Linked DNA regions of Homo sapiens: region 2 is linked to region 1. The links come from fine-mapping of genetic effects on gene expression. Tissue or cell type: whole blood. Region 1 holds a variant in brackets; the other region holds the start of a gene. All regions are shown on one strand. Distances are from middle to middle.

Region 1 (2,757 bases):
TGCCCAGCCTACTTTATTTTATATTTCACTGAAATGTTATTCGTCTATATTGTCACAAATTTAATCATAAAACAGAGCTAGGAGAGAAAAATAATGATAGATACTATTTATGAGTTACTTTGATTGCACTTTTCATAAATTATCCTCACTTCAAATAGGAGGCAACCAAGTGTAGACAGGTGAACTTGCCCTTGGTCATAGGGCTAGGATTTGAACAATAGTCTGTGAGGCTAAAGCTTATGTTTTTCTCACTACATTGCTCTAGTCAAACCATATTGCCTCCTGAGGGTAGAATGATGAAGAGAAGTAGCTAAGCACTCTGTAGTCAAAGTTGCTGGTTTAAATACTGGCTCTTATTCTTACTAGCTGTGTGACCTTGGATAACTAATCTAACTTCTCTCTGCTTCAATTTCTTCCTATATAAAATAGAGATAATGTGAGAATTAAATGGGACAAAGTATACACAGCAATTAAACCAATGCTTGCTATACAGCAAGTGTTCAATAGGTGGTACAATTTTTGTTACTACTATTATTGTTATTACTACTGAAAGTAAACAAAAATAAAAAAGAGTGGCTTGGCTGCTTTAAATGAGAAACAGCCCTAAAGTAATGCCGGATGCTCTTGCTGGGTCTGGGAGAACAGCAGATTACTCACTCTGTTGAGTTGTCAAGCCTGGGTGATCCCTGCCTGCCGCACTCACAGTCTGCTGTTTACAGTCCCGAATGCATCCAGTGGAATGGTCCTCCCCATCTGCAGCATCTGGTGCAATGTAGGAGACCCTTCAGCTTCCTCTGGACTGTTTTTCTTTTCTGTTTGTGTCCATCTTCCTTGATCAAACTCCAGAAGGCATATCCCCAATAGTTTTCTCCATTGTGGAGGACCTCTTCCATATTTTATGTGCTAGGATTGTGATATTCTGTTATGGCAGCCCTAGCAGATGAATAATACAGGTAGAATGGTCCTCAGGTGGTCTGAAGCAGGAGATACGGCACTTATGGTGCTCTCTGATGAAGCCTGAGTCAATGGAGGAGCCCGCAGCTGCCGGGTCACTTGGTTTCAGGTTTGTGAGAGTCAGCTGAGGGACAAGAGCTCCGGGAACTTTGAAGGCACCCTCTCGAGAAAGCGTTTTCTGTCTTAAATATTTTCCTGCACAGGTCTGAAATTGTATCAGTAGAAATTCATGTGGGGGTCTTGATGCCTTCTTTAGTTTTCAGCAATCTCATGATAGAATGAGAATGTACCTGGTCACCAGGACGCTGTTGATAGGCTGAGAATGTGGGGTGTGGTTTCTGGAAAAGGACTGCAGGGAAGCCGGCAGTGAAGGACAGATGGGCCAGATCTTTAGGTTCTCTCCCTTCCAGCTTTGCCCAGGACCAGCCTGGATGAGCTTCTCATGGGGCTTACAGAAAGAAGGGTGTTTTGGTTCTTCCTTGAAGGTATTAATACTTACTTCTCTGAATGTGAGGCTCTGGGCTGGGGGCACAAGGCTACAGTGATTGCTTCATTGTTTGGTGGTGGAGTCTTTGAGATCCTTCTTTTGACCTTTCAGGCTCTACAACATTTTGATCAGAAGTTTTTGCTTTTTGTGTAAGGGATGTGGTGCAATTGGGGAAGGTGCTATTGGGGTTTTTAGTGTAAGGGATGTGGTGCAATTGGGGAAGGTGCTATTGGGGTTTTTAGT[A/G]TAAGGGATGTGGTGCAATTGGGGAAGGTGCTATTGGGGTTTTTAGTGTAAGGGATGTGGTGCAATTGGGGAGGGAAGTGTGGAGAACAAACAAAGGAAAGCACACTGGCCAGCCATACATAGTTCAGTAAAACAACACACTTCTGTCCCTGCCGCTACTAAAGTTCTTAAGCTCCCCAACCTTTTTTCTTTTACCTTATCTCTTTTTTGGGCCTCTAGAAGGAAAATATCCGTCTTTTTTTCTTACTACTGACTCCAGTGTGTTTATAACTTTGGTATTTTTGTTTGTCATTGTTTTGGCTTAAATGTGAATGTAAAGGAGAGTTCAACAGCAGTAAATAAAGTGCTGAGTAGCCTGTAGAAATGCTTTTGTATTGAAGTCAGATTAAATTTGTCCTCCAGTAAGATTTCTGTCACTGCCCTCTCTCCTCTGCCTTCCTTCCGCTGGATTCCTTCCCCTAGCATGGCAGGCTATCTCCACACTCTCAGGGTGCTAGCAGCTTCTTGGATTTACTCTTGACTTTTCATGAGATTGTTGGAGACTGAAAACAAAAAAAGCCTTTAAGATCCTAAAACAAATTATAACTAAGGATATAATTTCAGACCACTGGGACACATATGGTGAGGAAGGGAACCCTCCCAATGTTTCCAATAGGTCAGTCTATAATCAACAAGAGTTCTGCACAGGAATGAAACAGAGGATGCTGAGATGGAGAAGAATCAGCATGATTGTATACGAATGAGTGGCAACAGAGATAGCTTCCTCAAAAGGAAGAAATATGCATCACACTCTGTTCTGGGTCAAATAGAATGTTACAAATTATAGGAAAGAAATGATCTAGGTAATTATTTTTATACCATTTCACTTAAAACCCTTCATTTTCTTTGAATGGTAGTCATTTGTTTTCTTTCTAGGTGGGGTGATGGAATAACCATCTGCCAACGTATGGCCCCAATGTGTAGGGAGTGGTCACACACCAGGGTGTGAGAAATGCATATTTTTCTCAGTGTGTGGGCTCATGGATGAGAGAGAAATAGCCACTGACAACGTGGGGGAAAAGAAATACCTTGAC
Region 2 (2,757 bases), 100 kb before region 1:
CCATCACTGCACGCTCCATCACAAAAATGCGCCCTTTTGGACATCTGATTTCTCCTTGAAATGTCAGCTGTCTCAAACCAATAGATATGTCCACTACCTATTGGGGGAAAAAGTAAATGTAGTTCTCAAGTAGTGGTTCAAGTTACCCTAGGTTCAACCCTCAGCCTGATACCTTCCTATCATCAAGAGCTTATAATCAGAGACACTTAACCAAAAGCGTGGAGGGACGGAAAAAGAGCAAATCTTGCCACTGATTTCTTTCATAAAAAAGAAAGAGCGTCCCAGGCCTTCCTCCTCGCGCAGCCAGGCCGGCGCCCACTCCGCAGGCTGCGAGGCGAGGCCCCCAGCACCCGCACACCCCCGCCCCGGATTGGCCAGCCCCGCAGTCACTCAGTACCGACACGTCAGGGCAGCCGCTCCCTCCCTCCTCCCGCCCCCTTCTCCCCGCGCTTGGCAAGAAAAGCGGGCAACGTGGAGCGGGAACAAAGGACCCCGCGGCCCACGGCGATCGGGGACTCCGTGCCACCCTACTCCAGGCCCGGGGCTGGCTGCCCGCCCACACGAGCCGAGTCTCGAGAGCTCTTCCAGAAGAGAATCCCAAACCCCAGGCAAACCCGAGGCGAGGCGTCCGTTCCTGACAGCAAGAACGGGGAGTCCCGCGCCCTCCTTCCGGCGGGTCATCCCCGCCCGCGGCGCCCTAACCCAGGCCCCCCAAAACCCTTCGAACAAAAAACTCTTGTTCCTCCCAGCCTGCCTCACCCGCGCCAGTGTAGCAAAGGGGCTCCAGCCTCCGCGCTCTCCGAGGCGACCGGCGCCCGCTCTCGGCCGCCAACGCAACTTGGCAACCATGGCAGCGCTGGAGCGCGGGCCCAGCGCGGCGCGGGCTTCACGTCCCAGAGGGCGGCGGCGGCCGCTTGGGGCTGCCTCCCCTGATGAGGACACCGCTTCCGCGCCTCCCACCCTCTTCCCATCCGCCGGCGCCATCCCTTCTTCTCGGATTCTAGCCGCGCCGTCTCCCTCATCTGTCGTTCGTAGAACCAGCGCGTATTACCTGGTTCATCTCTGAAGAGATGGAAACATTCATTTCTAGAGCTTCGATGGGAAGCAGGAGGAAGCGGGCGGGAATCGGCCCAACGGAAAGCGCCAGAAGGCGGCGGAAGACGGGAGCGGTCAAGTAGAAGGACGAGGGGCCAGTCCGTGGAGACTGAAAGGAAGGGGGAGCGCCACCGAGAACTCGCGGGAACTCGCTCGCTCGCCGATACAGCCGCGCCGAAGCAGCAGGCGGAGAAACTGCGCCCAGCAGCTCTGAGCGACCGACCTCCACGCGCGACCGGGAGACACTGCCTCCGCCGCCGCCGACCGCTCGCGCCGCACCCCCTCGCACGTCACCACGTGCGCTGCCGCCGCCGACGCCTCCCAGCCCGCTTCCGTCTCGAATCCATCTGCAAATCACAGGCGAGCTCCATAAAGATCCCACTCTAAGCCCCGCCCCACCCGCGGCCCCGCCCACATCCCGCCCCGCCTTCCTCCCTGGTCTACTGGGGTTCCTTCCTTCTCGGTGTAACTAGGTCAGCGCAAGGTGATCCTGAGGAGATAGGCGGCGCTCGGGGGGCGCCCTCGTTCCTCTTATCGCGCCTTTGTCCCTCCCTCCGTTCCTTGCCCCGCACCCTCACTTTCGCCGCCCTGTGCGTTGCCTGTCCCGGAACTGGTTCCCTCAAGCCGCCCTCACCTGTTCTGACTTCCCCTCGAGGCACAATAGCCTGAGAGATCAGACGTGGGAGATTAGATTGCTCGGCGTCAGACCTACTTCTAGGCAACCCCCCCTAGACTGGAGCTGCTCGTCGTGGACATTAGGATCTAGTTGGGCATGAGCCCTTAACTTAAGGGTCGGGGGGGAAGTGGCGGGTGCGGAGAGGAGGCGTGGAGAGTGTGAGGAAGAAGAGAGGCACTCTGAGAAGAAGTCGAACAACTAACCCCTCATTTGGCCTGGTTTGGGTGAGAAGATTGAGTCACTTGGGGAAAAAAATATTGGAGAAGTCAGAGAAGGTGTAAATCAGTGGTGCCACAAACACCAGTTTACTTCCACTTTTCACCCCCCGGGTCTGTTTTGTCTGCGTGCAGCTCTCCTCGTGTCGGAGACGCTGAGTCAGTTCTCTACTGGTCTTGCCCTCTTCCGGAAAAAGAAAACACACCTGAGAAGTGGTAGTTCCTATCCTAACCTACTGGGGCCCTTTATACCAGGTGCCAAACTTCATTATCCACCCCACCACCTTGCCCGGGAGGGAGATCTGTGAAAGCGAAACGTGATTTAAGCTGGGATCTGGCAGCAACTTCGTGGACTCTGAAGGGCACGTGGGAAAGGAGTTTTGATTGAAGGTGAGGGATTTAGTGAGGTAAAATTATATCCAAATTAGAGTTTGGTAAAGGCTTCCAGGTTAATGTCCTGTTAACGCTTATCCTGATTTGTGGAGGACACTTAAGCTGTCTAGGCCTAACCTTGTGTTTGATCACTCACCTTAATTTGTAGACATTCTAGGAGCTCTTTGTCAATGCCTCTTACCATTTTTATCATTAACTATTTATGCTTATAGAAGCAGGAAAAATAAATTGTGGGAGCCTTCATCTGCAATAGGTTTACAACTTTTTTTCTAAAATCTTGAGGCAAGGAGACTTATTCCCCCGCCCCTTTTTTTCTCACAGATTTCTTGTATGTCTCCCTCGCCCCGCCCGCACCCCGTCCCCCCGCCCCCGGACAAT

What was found. PIP is the estimated chance that this variant, and not a neighbour inherited with it, causes the effect.
Region 2: it holds the start of IVNS1ABP, and the variant in region 1 is fine-mapped to the expression of IVNS1ABP in whole blood (TOPMed, PIP above 0.99).

The regions. Positions count from the first base shown.
Region 1 is chr1:185,419,247-185,422,003 of GRCh38, forward strand. No RefSeq gene overlaps it. Among named protein-coding and RNA genes, the nearest start is that of CBSLR, 100 kb to the left of the region's middle. The variant A/G (reference allele first, on the strand shown) is at 1,685.
Region 2 is chr1:185,315,902-185,318,658 of GRCh38, forward strand. It overlaps IVNS1ABP (influenza virus NS1A binding protein), which reads right to left and starts at 1,342. Exons shown (of 15, transcript NM_006469.5): 1 at 1,052-1,342. It overlaps CBSLR (CBS mRNA stabilizing lncRNA), which reads left to right and starts at 1,551. Exons shown (of 4, transcript XR_007066771.1): 1 at 1,551-2,376. RefSeq lists enhancers at 668-1,281, 1,931-2,030, 2,281-2,360 and silencers at 771-830, 1,291-1,600.